2 linked regions of the Homo sapiens genome follow. The protein of the gene in region 1 interacts with the protein of each later gene in a biochemical or structural test. Each region holds a gene or a part of one and is shown on either strand. Other genes may lie near its edges.

What was found. The genes of interacting proteins can lie anywhere in the genome.
Region 2: the proteins of KLF10 (region 1) and KDM5B form a complex in vitro, tested with the Homo sapiens proteins (one study listed by BioGRID).

Annotation. Positions count from the first base shown.
Region 1 is NC_000008.11:102,648,284-102,654,983, forward strand, and holds the end of KLF10 (Krueppel-like factor 10), read right to left. Parts: intron 5,461-6,700; exon of another isoform or gene 5,190-5,460; coding exon of another isoform or gene 5,187-5,189; intron 4,115-5,186; coding exon 3,881-4,114; intron 3,779-3,880; coding exon 2,866-3,778; intron 2,109-2,865; coding exon 1,849-2,108; 3' UTR 501-1,848; downstream 1-500.
Region 2 is NC_000001.11:202,797,422-202,806,679, reverse strand, and holds part of KDM5B (lysine-specific demethylase 5B), read left to right. Parts: intron 1-9,258. UniProt on the Homo sapiens protein: Histone demethylase that demethylates 'Lys-4' of histone H3, thereby playing a central role in histone code. Does not demethylate histone H3 'Lys-9' or H3 'Lys-27'. Demethylates trimethylated, dimethylated and monomethylated H3 'Lys-4'.

The DNA of each region.
Region 1 (6,700 bases):
TTGGGAGGCCAAGATGGGCGGATCACTTGAGGTCAGGAGTTTGAGACCAGCCTGACCAACACGGCGAAACCCCGTCTCTACTAATATAAAAATTAGCCGGGCATGGTGGTGCACACCTGTAATCCCAGCTACTCTGGAGGCTGAGGTAGGAGAATCACTTGAATCTGGGAGGTGGAGGTTGTAGTGAGCTGAGATCATGCCACTGCACTCCAGCCTGGGTGACAGAGTGAAACTGTGTCTTGAAAAATAAAAAACAATGTTTAAAAATTAAATGTGTTTTCTTAGAACTGGCTGGTTCACATATTACCTCACCAAATAGATATTTGGCCTCACTTTGTATACTCTCTAAATGGATTCATGTTAAAGACATACTCCTACAGTTCTAAATTTGAATGAGACCCTTAGAGAAATTCAGACACTAAGTCCTTGGATAATATAAGTGATCAATGTCAAGGTGAGAGTTGAGAATGGTTTTTAAGAAATGCAATGACCATTCCATATACCAAAGGGAATTCTTTATTGTAAACAAGATATAAAGTACAACAAAAGAAATATTGTGCAAATTGTAAGTCACAAGGATTTTTTTTAATTAAAACTTTTGTTTTCCAAGGGTCCAAGTTTTGATGTCAGAAATCTACACCCAATATACAAAAACAATGTTAAATGGGAAGATATAGTGACATTTTTCACTATATATTTTAAGCAATGTACTTTTGTTTTGCCACTGTGTATATCATCCACTATATAACAGAATAAAAGAGAAATACTGTTAACAAAAGTGAATGTTCTAATAATTTTTCTACCCAACTACCTCCACATCCCCAAAAAACGCCTATAAATTAACAGGACAACATCAACATTTGTCCACCTGTGAATAATGGTCACTAATTTTCTAATTCAATAAAGCACACATTATATCCTCATAACATAAAGGTACTTTACTGATGACATAAGCCATCTTTTTCAAGAAGTTATCTAAGATTCTTAATATCCCTTCTTTACAATATATATTTCATCTTCAGTTTTTTTTCTAAACAAAGTGCAGTGTATCTTAGAGTCTACAGAAAACACATTGGTATACAATTTTCAAATCTACACAAGAAACTGCAGGCAAACTAAAGTTCAAAGCATAATGAAATGCCTAGATACAGTCATTTGTTAAACTTTCAAAACAAAAATGCAAAAACAAATTGTAGCTATGCTTCAAAGCAATTAAATTAAGGAGGATTCCAATTCTTTGGGCCCTCTTAGCAATATACAGTCGTTCAATTCCAAATATTCACAATAGTGTAAAAATGATAGTTCTAGATATATTTAATCACTACATCCACGATGTTGACTGGAAAGACTAGGAATAATAAAGAAGATAACTCTAGAAAAAGATGACAATATTTGTAATAATACAAACTCATTTTACATCTCCATGTCTGTACCGTAATGTTTATTTCCTTCCAGCCTCCATATTCTTGAAACCAGTGCTTTAGAAGAATCACATTGAAAAGTTGGTCTCAAGTATAAACAGCAAAAGTAAAGTAACAAATATGCACACAGATTCAAAATCTGTGCTACCTGTGTTGACCTCATCTGAAACCTTCAAAAAATATTCAAAGGAATAAAAGCTTTCTCATCTCTCTTATGTGATAAGAAATGAAACCTGCCTTTCTGTGACCTGCCTGTGGCCGAAGCCCTTTTAGTCACCTAACCCAGGCGGGGCCTTCGTGCCAGGCTGTGGGGCTTCTGCTTTAAGCCCACGTTGTGGGGCCACAGACTTGCAGTGGAAGCATTTTTACATCACCACTGGCTCCCGCTGAGACCAAAGTTAGTTCTGACTCTTCACTTTCCGGTCTGTCACTGTGTGGGAGCAGGGGTTGGAGGTAGAGCAATGTCATTTAGCTTGCTCACTTCCATCTGCCAGTTTGGTAGCTTCTTGGCTGATAGATGGCGCCGGGCATGCTTGGTCAAATGGTCACTCCTCATGAACCGCCGGTCACACATGGGGCACGCAAATTTCTTCTCACCCGTGTGGGTTCGCCTGTGTCTGGACAGTTCATCAGAACGGGCAAACCTCCTTTCACAACCTTTCCAGCTACAGCTGAAAGGCTTTTCTCCTAAAACAAAGACATACAAATCATTATTATGCATAAGATTGCCGTAAATTATATGTTCAATTCTGTCTAAAAGTATATGAGAAGATACATTTTAAATAATAAAAGCTAATAAATCAAACTGTCAAATGAATATGAGATATGTATTGCTCCAATTTCAACTTGTCACTTGATCACATTTACAAAACTCTTCCCCACATGAAATAAGGCAGCCGGGTGGAGTAGTAGGCACCTGTAGTCCCAACTACTCAGAAGGCTGGGGCAGGAGGATAGCTTGAGCCCAGAAGTTTGAGACCAGTTTGGGCAACAGAGCAGTTTTTTTTCATCCCTTAAAAAAAGCCAAAAATGAAAAGACTTCCTGACTTTAACTATGATTCAAAGGCTTTAAAGATACCTTATTAAAGTAACTACTCAGACATCTACAGAATCATCATTTGAGAGACTGAAACAAAAGCACATCAATAAAGTATTTACATACTTATTTTTAAATTATTTGTAGAGATGAGGTCTCAGTATGTTGCACAGGCTGGTTTTGAACTCCTATGCTCAAACAATCCTCCCACCTTGGTCTCCTAAAGTGCAAGGATTATGGCACTCGTGAGCGGCCTCCAATACAGCCTTTTGGAGGACCTTGCACTGGTAAATACCATCCTCTAAACTAGCTAAAGGCAAGTTATTCCTTATCATCCTGGGTTTAAATGTGTGATCACAGCCAAAATCTCTTCATTTAAACACTAAAGATATAAGAAGTGGCTGGTACCTGTGTGCGTCCTCGTGTGGGCCTTCAGATGGGAACTTTTAAAGTATGTCTTGCCACATCCTGGGTGGCTACAGATGTGACTCCTTATCCTTGATGAATCAATCTGAGGAGTGACTTTTGCTGCTGAAGGGGAAAACCCAGGAGCAGGGGCAATGGGAGAGAGTCTGGTGCCATTCGGGCTCACCACCGGAGGCTTTGAACTCTGCACAACGGGCTGGGGTACCACAAACATGACAGCGCCTTTGGGGACTTGTGTGCCCATGAACACAACAGGGGGGCAAACGGCTGGTGGCTGGCTGGGAGGAGTGCTGGGAACGACTGTTGTCACAACAGGGTTGTTGGCAGGAAGGGGAACCATCTGGCAGATGACCGGCATAGGTGGCACTCCCCCTGCAGATACTGCAGGTGGAGAGACCAACACTGACTTCTGTTGTGGGGACACAGGGGCTGGCTGAGACCTGCAGATGACCGTCTCTGAGGAAGGCACAGAAAAGTCATAAAGTGCAGCACTTGCTTTCTCATCAACATCTGCCACTGTGTTTCTCTCACATTTGGATCTGTTTGGTGACACAGCGGCACATGGTATGTTCTTTCTTGCAGCCTCAACATTTAGGTGGGTTCTTCTTCTAAAAGAATTGTTCTGATAGTTGAGGATGCTGGCTGCTTTCATTGGGCAGGTCTGGTGGTTACATAGCTGGGCATCAGCTGTATGACGAATCACACTTGTTGCCTGAGCTTTGGGGAGTTTGGGGGCAGATACTGGGCTCTTTTCTTCCTCTTTGAAAGGTGCGGCAATGTGAGGTTTGGCAGTATCTGAGAGTGACTTGAAGTGTACAGTAGATGGCGCTGGTGCCATCAGATTTGACACTTGAGAGGGTTCAAAGTCAGAAGGACTGTAAGGTGGAGTCAAACACTAAAGAAAAGGGAAATACATAGCATGAGAAATCTACAGTTTATTATATAAATTTTAAGAAATTATATAATTTACGTCTATCTTAAAAACAATAATACTTACAAATGCTGGGATTGTATGAAAATCAGGTGTTCCCGGAAGCAGATTCTCTTCCTCTGACAAATCAGATACTGGTGTAACAGGTCTGTTTTCAACGTATTTCTTAAAATCAGACTTCCAACTGCAGCTCATTGACATAAGTGCTTCTACAGCTTCAAAATCACTTTTCTCTGCAGTTTTGTTCCAGGAATACATACTCTCTTTTGGCCTTTCAGAAATCATTTCCATTCTTTCCTCCTATAAAAACAAAAGAGGAAAGCTTATAAGCATATTTTTTGTCATCCAAATGACACACAGAAAAATGAGCAAATTTTTTTTTTTTTTTTTTTTACAACTCACACAACTTTCCAAATTAAAATCAGAAATAATTTTCCTCTCACACTTACTATGATACTAAGGAAGTTCAGCTACACTTGTTAGGTAGGTAACCCAAACCTCACAGTAGTGGCAATAAAATCTTCCTCATTTTTTCTGTTAACATTTAGACTTTAACACTGATAAAGCGATATCCGTTCATGGGAGAGAGGCACACCTACTACCATTAAGGGGACTAAGACGAAAATTATCAATGCATTTGTGATCCAAAAGGAGAAGTATTTGGCTAAGAAGAAAAGGAGTATTTTATATAGACTTTCCAGAGTAGCTACCTGCAACTGGAGTCGGGCAAAAAAACTAAGAGTGCGGCAAAAAATTTATCTTCTTAAATATTACAGGTATGGTATGAGGTCTTTTGAGGTACAAATTGCTGATAGAAAAAAAAAATAGCCAAAACCTTCTAATAAAGACAAAATGTAGTAGAGCTCTGGCCTGTTGTTATGGGTCTGACCTTTGGAAAGTCACTTTGCACTTTGGGATAAAAATCAAAAGATAAGGGATCCTCAGGGTATCTTTCAAGTTAAAATTGCATTATTTAAGATCTAAAATTTGATCACTTGATTATGGTAAAGAAAAATCAAGTGATATACATAGAAAAAAATTCTAATGTTTATTTTAATTAACTTTCAACCTCTTCATATTTGTGCTCCCTTTTACTGAATCTATTTGACACAATGGTTTGCCATACATAACTACAACATAGCTAATGCAATATTACTAAAAACTGGATAATCAAAAAATTTAATATTCTACTTGGAATTTGCAAAAACCGACTTTAAAAAGTCAGCATAATCAAAGTAGAATCTATTTTAATTCCTTAAAGAACTGCTTGATGACAAAATAACAGCACAGGTTTTGCACTTATTTGTAGAACTACCTAATGTTTTATAGTAAAGTTCTTTGAACTACGCTAAAAAAAAATGGTACTACTCACCATTTCTCCTATTTTCCATTAAAAGAAAACTGTCCAGACTCGTTTGGTCAAAGTAGAGATTGTGTAAAAATACCAAAAAACATTCTTTACGTTGCAAGGTATTATTCTCAATACTAGTTTTTCAAAAATGCATGATGCCTTCGTGTTGAAATCCTAAGAAAACGAGCCATTGCTCTTGAAATATCGCTAACAATATAATTGCATAATCGCGCCCGCCTTTATGTAAGCTGCAATGGACAGCGCGCGTGTGTGTAACAGCCCCAAGACGCCAATGCAAAAAAAGGAAAAAAGAAAGGCAGGCGGCAGGGAAAGAGAGCGTGAGCTGGGAAGGACAGGAAGGGAAACAGGGAGGGGAGGAAAGGGAGTGGGGCGCGAGGCAGGAAAGGGAAGCGCGGGCGGAGGCGCGGGCGGGGGAGGCAGACGAGGGGCGGGGGCGGACGGCGGGGGAGATCCTAGCTGGCGGAGACCGACGGATGGGGCCGCCCTAACCTCAATGAGGCTCACGGGTGAGTCACTGGGAACATTCCTCGCCGCTCGCACGTCCCCGCGCCCCTGCCCCCGCCATTGGCCGGCCGGCTCGGCGGCCCGAGCCCGGATTGGCTGTGCGGCCCGGGGCGGGGGCGTGGGCGAGGAGGGGGCGAGGCATGTGAACAAAGCGTGATCAGCGGCTGCTCCGGGAGGCGCAGGAAACGTGAACTGGGAATTGCCGCGCCGTCACCTTTCCCCTACTTCCTGAGCTTGCGGGCCCCCGCCCGCGCCCGACCCGGGGGAGGGGCCGCGGGCGCCGCCGCCAACCGCCCGGCCGTGCGCGCCGGGCCCGCGGGGAGGGGCGGGGCTGCGGGCGCCAGGCTCCGGGAGGCGCCCGCCCCTTCCAGCTCCCCGCGAGCCGCCGTTCCCTTAGGAACCGACAGCGGGGCCGGGCCTCGCTCCCGCCCCTGGCGGAGGCCGGGGCTGGGTCACTCGGGGACGAGAAGCTCCCCGGGCGCACCCGCTCCCGGCCCACCCCCGGCCTCCGCCTCAGATGCGGGAGGAGGAGCCAGGTCCCCGCGGAAACCCGGCCGCCGCCCTCCTCCCGCCGGCAGCCCCCGGGAACCCGGCCGAGCCCTCGGCACTTCCCGCCCACGCGGCCCACGGGACCTCAGACCACCCCGTCTCTCCCTGTAGACGCGGCGCCCCCTCCCCGTGGCTTCCGGCAGCTCCAGGCCCCTCCCGCCGCGCGTCTCCACGGGTTCCCAGACGTGCAGCCCCCACAGGCCCCGGCTCCAGACGCGCGGCCCCCGCGTCTCGCGGCCCAGCTCCCCCCGCCCACCTTCCCGCCCCAGCTGCTGGGTCCCGCTTCCCACCCTCCTGCCCCAGAGGCGGCTCCCCGCCTCTTCCAAGGAGTCGTCAGAAGGCGGCCACCTGCCCCTGGGGTAAGAGTCCCCCTCCAGACGTCTGGGGGAGCAACTCGTCCCCCAGGGCTGTCGGCGGGCCCTCGTGTCATCCCCCCGCTCCGACGACAGGCGCCCCTTCCC
Region 2 (9,258 bases), on another chromosome or scaffold:
AAGGCTTCTTAACCCTTCCCTGCCCCAAATTAAAACACGGACACCTACTTTAGTTTTTCTTAAGCAAGTTTGAAAATGGAGATGAAATACATGCTTCAGAAAATAACTGGCCAGCGAATATGAGGGAAATGTTTGAAAATAGATCCATTTCTTACAGCGAAGTGGGCAAGGTTGATTCTTGCTGCTTAAGGGAAGTACGTTTCTCTTAGTGCAAAGAGGCCTGCAGAAGTTATAACAGGGCTGGTTAGAGCCAAGGTTTTAATTCTTGAATAATAGGTCATGTTTCACACTGTAGTAATGTAGCTTCATGTCACATGCTAGGAAGGGTGAATATGAATATTGCACATTTGCATAATGGGATTTTATTCAGAAATTGGGTAACTTGACTAAGTTCTTAGTAACCAAAACGTGGGGAGTCAGGTTCCTGGGAGGTGTCCTCCATGTTGGTATTGTGGTATACCAGGGCTGGGGTAAATCCTTTATCTTGTTTTCTTGTTCTTTGCCTTTTAGAGGGCCCTTTTTCTGAAAAGATAGTGTTGCTCTGGTTAGGCTTGGCTACCCATTTCCTCATCTTGGCTAGAATATTAATGGTAATCTTTGCAAAATGTGTGATCGAATTGCCTTTTTCTCACTCTGAATGTCAGACAGACATGATGGCCACCATTTTGTATTGAGAGTGCTACATAGTACAGCCTGAGGAAAGGGGTTAAAGAGGCACCAATAATCTACAAATACAACCAGTACTCTGTTTGGAGACCTCCTTTGTGTGGAGGGGACTTGCTTCCTCCTTTGTTTAACAAACTCCTTTGCCAAATGGAAAGAGTTTGAGAGTATTTGTTGTTGATATAACCACAAAAAGGGAAATCTTTCCAGAAGTTGTAGCTCTTGAAGAGGGGTCTTGTTGGAACAAAGGCTTCTTAAGAGATGTAAACAGTCTTTGTTTTAGAAACTGTTTTGTTTTTGGGAAAGCTAACTGTGAACAAGTGGTTTCATATAGTTGATATATAGCAACAAAAAAACCCTTCAAGAAGTGTGAAATATTTTCCATGGTGATATATATAATGTCTGTATTTCTGGATGATTTTTGTTCACCGAGTTTTTGGAACACAAATGGTTATATTAGAAGGGGAATTGGAACTATTGGTATTTTACTTGTTAGAAGGTAAGGAGAAGTATAAAACATTTCTGTCTCCTTTTGTTCTTACCTTTGTATCTTTACCAATGGTACTTAATATAGTTTCAGTTTATAGCTGCTTTCTCAGTGAGACTCCCAAACTGCTTGGCTTCTGAAAACTTAGAGTACTTACATTATTTTGTATATGGCAGCTTAGGGGTTCTCAGAAATTTGAAAATATAGTAAGATAAATGTGAGAAAACGTGATTAAGTCAAGAAGACTATACTTCAAATCTGAGTTTGAAGTTTAATACAAACCTTTGTTTCAAATTATATCAACTATGTAGGATAACCAGGCTTGTTTTCTGGACCAAAACCTTCTTAAATTTACAATTCATCTGGCTTCTGGTTTTGTCACCTTTAAAATGCAAATTTTTAATTTCCTCCATGATACTGTACTTAGATGTCTGTTTAAGGACAAATGATATTTTTCCATATCACTTTGTGGTATTTGGAGATGAGTAATTTTAAGGGTGTAACTATTAGGCAGAAAAATAGTTGGCTGCTCAGTAAATACTTTTTTGTCTCCCAAATTTTGATAGGAATATATTTATGGCTTTAGTAACTTATTTTCTTGCTTTCAAATGTCTCACATTTGGCCATAGATAGATTCCACAAATTTCTTTTTTTTTTTTTTTTTGAGACGGAATTTTGCTCTTGTTGCCCAGGCCTGGAGTGCAGTGGCTCATCACAACCTCTGCCTCCCGACCTCAGGTGATCCATGCGCCTCGGCCTCCCAAAGTGCTGGGATTACAGGCGTGAGCCACCGTGCCGGGCCTAGATTCCACAGATTTCTTCTTTGTGTCCGGAGAAGGTTTAAATCAAACCCCAGAGGCCACAAGAGACAAAAATTTTTCAGCTTTAACTTCTTGTGGTTACTAGTTTGATTCCTTCATCTTTATAGCCAAGTGTAAAACTGCCCTTAAATGTTTTAATACAGTCACCATTTTTGAGTGAGCCTGTTGGTTCCACTCCTAGAGAAGAGGGAGGAACTTATACACTTCTTTGTATGGTAGAAGTGTTAATGATATGGAGCTCATTTACTCCCTTTCCAGCGTATCATTCTCCCTAATTTGGGGTTTGATCGACTTAGGCCTAACCCTCTCTCTGTTTTCCCTATTTCTTTGGTGTCATGAAATCTTTCCCTACTTGTATCTTTGGCCACTTTAAGCCTTTAACGTTTAGAGAAGAGGCTTATCAGTAGAAACATCCTTGAGCAAAGGAAGAACTTATAACTACTTAAAAAAAAAACCCTTTTATTGAAATATACCATACAATTCACGAATTTATGATGTGTAATTCAGTGGTTTTTGATATTTTCAGAGTTGTACAACCATCACCACAATCAATTGTAGAACATTTTCATCTCCCTCAAAAGAAACCCTGAACTCACTTGTAACTACTTTTTTTTTCCTTTTTTTAAATTATACTTTAAGTTCTAGGGTACATGTGTACAACGTGCAGGTTTGTTACATATGTACACATGTGCCATGTTGGTGTGCTGCACCCATTAACTCATCATTTACATTAGGTATATCTCCTAATGCTTTCCCTCCCCCCTCCCCCGACCCCTAACTACCTTTTAAGACAAATTTAGGACTATAATGCCCAGGAGAAAAACCTGGTAGGAGGTTGGATTAAGTCCTACAGTTCTAGGCCACAAATGTCTACCTTTTTTTTTTGAGATGGAGTTTTGCTGTTGTTGCCCAGGCTGGAGTGCCATGGCGCAACGTCATGTTGCTCACTGCAACATCCGCCTCCCGGGTTCAAGCGATTCTCCTGCCTCAGCCTCCTGAGTAGCTGGGTGGGCATGCACCGCCACGCCCGGCTAACTTTGTATTTTTAGTAGAGACGAGGTTTCACCATGTTGGTTAGGCTGGTCTTGAACTCCTGACCTCAGGTGATCCACCCACCTCGGCCTCCCAAAGTGCTGGGATTACAGACGTGAGCCACCGCACCTAGGCCACAAATGTCTACCTTAAAGCTAAAACAAACTTCATTTGTTGTAGTTATTGAATGGGTGTTTAGCTAAATTTGACTTTGCCAGTGGTAAATTGGGCACATTAGTAGCCACAAACATATCTACCCAGTTGTAATTCTTAGTGAACTAATAAACAAAACGTGTAGACTTTAAGAATGTAATGTGAATGATATTGCAAATATGAGTCAGCTAAAGATTTGAGTCCCCACCCCCACTGGAAAAATTTCCTTCCCTTCCTATGGTTATAGGGTATGGTTTTAAACATGCAATCTAAACTTTTAAAAGAGCGAAATGAGTAGAGAATTACCTTTGAAAAACATTAATAAACATTCTCTATTAAAAGCCAGGGCCTGAAATTTCCTTTTTTTTTTAATCTCACTCTGTCATCCAGGCTGGCATGCAGTGTTGCAATCAAGGCTCCCTGCAGCTTCCACTTCTTGGGCTCAAGTGCTCCTCCCTCCTCAGCCTCTAATAAATTGTAGGGATGCGGTTTCTCAGTATGTTGCCCAGGCTGGTCTTGAACTCCTGGCTTCAAGCAGTTCTCCCGCTTTGGCCTCCCAAAGTGCTGGGATTACAGGCATGGGCCAGTGCACCTGGCCTGAATTATTTTGTTGAGACACTGATAAGAAAAATTAAGAGAAAATTATTAAACCTTAATTTTATTCTTTCTCTGTTTCTAGGGTAATTTTCTTTATGACCTGTTGGCCTAGACTTAGAGTATTAGAGTATTTCAGGTTGATAGATTAGTGAAAAATGTGTTTACTGGTTTACATTTATAAGTGGGTAGAAATCTGCCAGTGGGGGAATTTTCTCTTGGGTAAAAAAATACAGGGCTGGGCATAGTGGCTCGTGCCTGTAATCCCAGCACTTTTGGGAGGCCTAAGTGGGCGGATCGCTTGAGGTCAGGAGTTCAAGACCAGCCTGGCCAACATAGCGAAACCCTGTCTCTACTAAAAATATAAAAATTAGCTGGGCATGGTGGCAGGCGCCTGCAATCCCAGCTACTCGGGAGGCTGAGGCAGGAGAATTGCTTGAACCCAGGAGGCAGAGGTTGCAGTGAGCCGAGATCACTCCATTGCACTCTAGCCTGGGCAACAGGCTCAAAAAAGAAAACAAACACAACAACAACAACAACAAACAACAACAACAAAAAAACAGTGTAAACTATTTGATTAAAAAAAATGAACCCTGTTTAAATGCTGTAATGGGACCTTTTTGTAGACTTTTGTAACCTTTCATTGTTGCCTTAATTGGACCCCATTAAGGTTGGCTGTAGAAAAGGATAAGGGAAAGCCCGTGCCCCTAAAATGAAAGTGCTAATTAGGTTTCTGGTGTTCAGGGTTTTTTGAAGCCTATGCGTGTACTTCTTTCCAAATGCCATCTATAGGTTTGAAAAACTACTAACCTAGGAGTACCTTGCTTTCATCCTTGGACAGTCCTCTCAGTGTTGAGATTGTTGTGCAATTTTTTTTTCTCTAAGAGAATTTGGTATTTTCTAATATACCTGTTATAGTACAGATCATTGGCAGCCTCAAAAAAAAAAAAAGATGGAATGAAGGTTGGGAACTGGAGGGCTACACATTCTCAAATTTAAGTTTGGGTCTCTTGAAGGGGACTCACCAGAGGGCGTACCGACAAGTCTCTTTGGGGTGAGTGGGTGGGTGAGTTGATACCTTGGGAAAGCCATATTCTTAGGCTGCTGCCATTGACTTTTGATTATTTAAAGTTTGAGATACTAATAACTGGATTTATAAAATCCAGATTGTGAGAAACTTGTTTTAGACATAAGAATGGTATGCAATTGAGAAGTATTTCTTAAGTATTTATTAACTGCTGTGTCCTTGCATGGGATTAAAGAGGAAAAATTAATATGAAAATTAAATGAAAATTGTAAATAAAAATTAAATGAAAAATTAAATTGTACACTTCCACAAATTCATTCAGAAATGTTTCTTTTTCTGTCATTATTAGATGAATTCTTTGAATTTGCTTTTTACAACCAAGTTTATGAACCAGATTAATGAAGAAAAGATGTCTCTAGGACAGTGAGGCATTTCAGTTCCATAATTGTAGGATGTTTGGAACAAAGATGCAGAATTTGACTGGAATGCATTCTTTTAAGTCCTCTACCCCCCACCATGATTTAAGACACTCAGTCCTTTAACTGTAGACCATCCTTCTTAAAGCACCATCAGCATATATCTTTACACATGGCCTTAGAGTCATCCCATATGTGCTGCTGCTGCTTTTTTTTTTTAAGCATTTAAGCTTTCTTTCGGATATAAAAACTAATCATTTTGTTCTGCCAGACCCGTCACTTCAGGGAGTAAATTAAAAAATTTTATTACAAAAAATGTGAAGCATACACAAAAGTGTAAAGAATAGTTACTTTAGCTATTTTCCTGGATAGAAGAGCAGAAAGTGGAGTAGCAGCATTGGAGTTGAGACAAAACTAGGGATCTTCATTTGTAAAGAACAGCTTAGCTTAGCTTTTGTCCTATTCAGGTTATAAGTGACATTTGGGCAATTATGAGGTGAGCTTTCTAGCCTTCAGTCAGTGATGGTCATTTTGCCCAATTAGGTTGGGGATAGTATTTCTCAGTTTTAGTCAATGGCTTTGTTGCTTTGTTACACATTTGTTGGGACATGTCAAGTAACTTGACCAGCTGCAGGTCTGTTGGCACATGGAGGTGTTGGAGTCGGTTGGTGGGTGGAGGTTAGTCTCTGCTAACATCACTTCATTTCTTTATCTGTTCATTTTTGTATTGGCCAGACTTTATCTGAACTTTCTTTTCTTAGGAAGGGGCCTTCTGGTCAGAGTGGGTATTTAGCCTGACAAAACAGAGCTGACATCAGTAGTAACCAAGAAACAGAATGATGTTCTAGCCAGGCATGGTGGCTCTCACCTGTAATTCCAGCACTTTGGGAGGCTCCAGGCAGGAGGATCGCTTGAGGTCAGGCGTTTGAGATCAGCCTGGGAAACATAGTGAGACCCTATCTCTACAAAAGACAAAAAATTAGCTGGGAATGGTGACGTGCACCTGTAGTCCCAGCTGCTCGGGAGGCCAAGGTGGGAGGATGGCTTGAGCTCAGAAGTTCCAGGTTGCGGTGAGCCCTGATCACGCCACTGCACTCCAGCCTGGGCAACAGAGCAAGACGTTTCAAAAACAAACAAAACAAAATGGCTGGGTGCGGTGGCTCACACCTGTAATCTCAGCACTTTGGGAGGCCGAGGCAGGTGGATCATGAGGTCAAGAGATTGAGACCATCCTGGCCAACATGGTGAAACCCTGTCTCTACCAAAAGTACAAAATTAGCTGGGCGTGGTGGTACGCACCTGTAGTCCCAAGCTACTCGGGAGGCTGAGGCATGAGAATCACTTGAACCTGGGAGGTGGAGATTGCAGTGAGCCGATATCGCACCACTGCACTCCAGCCTGGTGACAGAGCAAGACTCCGTCTCAAAAAACAAAAACAAAACAAAAGTCCCTTTCTGGAAAAGAAGTTTTAGGGAAATGAGAATTTGAAGAGTCTGATGAATTACTTGTTAGATTGTTAGGTTCAATTTAAAAATTAGGTCATTGGAAAATATTTTCTATTAATGTCCCTTAAAATCTAAAGACTTCTCCCTGCTTCCTTGAAATAATAACTTCATTTCTGAGATAGGAGATGCCACCAGGCAGGTGGTCACATAATGACCTTTTAGAACTTGTTGATTTCATTTCACATGGTAATCTCTTGTAAAATGCTGTGAAATTTAACTATTATTTTGCAGGGATAAAAAAGAGGTTTATCAAGGGGACTGTGTGTATGTATATTTTTATTTATCACGTTTTTTTCTTTTTTAAAAATTACTTTTTTTTTTTTTGAGATGGAGTTTCACGCTTGTCACCCAGGCTGGAGTGCATGCAGTGGCGTGATCTCGGCTCACCGCAACTTCCGCCTCCCAGGTTCAAGTAATTCTCCTGCCTCAGCCTTCCTAGTAGCTGGGATTACAGGCACCTGCCACCACACCCGGCTAATTTTGTATTTTTAGTAGAGATGGGGTTTCTCCATCTTGGTCAGGCTGGTCTCGAACTCCCGACCTCAGGTGACCCGCCCACCTCGGCCTCCCAAAGTGCTGGGATTACAGGCGCGAGCCACCGCGCCCGGGTTAAAATTACTTTTCAAAAGCCAGTTCCTCTATTATGTAAAAGAGGACAGGAGGGGTATTTTCTAGATTTTAAAAAATAGGTGGGTAGAGTCTTCAATCTAGTTACATCATGACCTTGGACAAAGTCATTTTTCTGCAACGTATGCTTGTCATCTGCTCTAAGGGGATCTGACACTGACCTAGGGCTGCTGTCCAGACTAATTAATTGATGGATTGCAAGGAGCTTAAATCCCAAAGCTTTATTTGCTCATTGCTAAGAAGAGTCTGGGGACAGATTTAGTGAGACAAGGGTTAGTGCCAAGTACACATCCCTCATTTTCCCATATAGTGAAGGGATTTCCCCTTGTCCCCCGGGGACAGAGTCTTGCTCTGTTGCCCAGGCTGGAGTGCAGTGGTGCAATCATAGTTCATTGCAGCCTTGACCTCATGAGCTCAAGCCGTCCTCTCACCTCGGCCTCCTGAATAGCTGGGACCACAGGTATACATGCCACCACACCCAGAATTATTATTTTTTTTTAGGGACAGGGTCTTGCTGTGTTGCCGAGGCTGGTTCGAACTCCTGGCCTTAAGCCATCCTCCCACCTCAGCTTCCCAAAGTGCTGGGACTACAGGCATGAGCCACTGCACCTGGCTGTGAAGGGATTGTTTTCTTTTTTTCTTGTTTTGTTGCCCAAACTGTAATGCAGTGGCACAATCACAGCTCCTTGGAGCCTCGAACTCCTGGGCTCAAATGATCCCACCTCAGCCCCCCATTTAGTTGAGATTACAGGCACACACCACCATGCCTGGCTAATTTTTCAAATTTTTTTGTAGAGATGGTGTCTCACTATGTTAGCCAGGCTGGCCATGAAGGGATGTTTTAAAAGTGAAACTTGAAAAGGCAAACCGCACCCCGCAACCCCAAAAAAAGGCAAAAACCCATCATCAAAACCAGAGTATAGCCAGCATAGTGGCTCACACCTGTAATCCCAGCACTTGGGGAGGTGCAGGTGGGAGGATTGCTTGAGCACAGGAATTTGAAACCAGCCTGGGCAACATAGCAGACCCTATCTGTACAAAAAAAAAAAAAAAAGACAAAAACCAATCGAACAAAAAAAACCCTAGAATATATAGACTATAATCCTTCAATTGGTTTAGACAAAGCTTTTCTGTCCCTGAATCTTTATTTTTTTTGAGACAGGGTCTCACTATGTTGCCAGGCTGGAGTGCAGCATGATGTGATCTTGGCTCACTGCAAACTCCGCCTTCTGGGCTCAAGTCATCCTTCCACCTCAGCCTCCCTAGTAGCTGGGACTGGGACTACAGGTGCATACCATCATGCCCAGCTAGTTTTTGTATTTATTTTAATAGAGACGGGGTTCACCATGCTGCCTAGGCTGGTCTTGAACTCCTGAGCTCAAGCAGTCCACCTGCCTAGGCCTCCCAGAGTGCTGGGATTACAGGCACAAGCCACTATGCCCGGCCTGTCCCTAAACAGATTAGTGAGATTAACATGTTTTAAAAGGTAGAGCTGTTAAAAATTATTTCAGAAAATTTGCAGGTGCATTTGTGTGTCTTATGTAGTGCATGTATATAGGCAGGAGTTTAGTTTGGTGAGATTTGTATTAAGAAGGGTTTACAGTGATTTAAATTTCCCCTAATATGGGATGACTGTGACATTGTGGAAGCCACGCAAATAGAAGGATATTGTACTTACTAACATAATTTAAATAATCTCAATTCATGTCTGACAGGAGGGGTCAATAGTTGAAGTCTAGTAATTTTGCAATTATCCTACTTGTAAAGTGGGGAGAAAAGTAGAAGTGGCAGGAAAAATGTTTACCTAGATCTTTTAAGAAAATATTTTAGGACAAGAGCCACCATCATATTTTATTCTTTTATTTATTTATTTATTGAAGTTAATTATATTTAGACTTAAGGAATTAACAAAGGAGCAGGGAGACTAGACCAG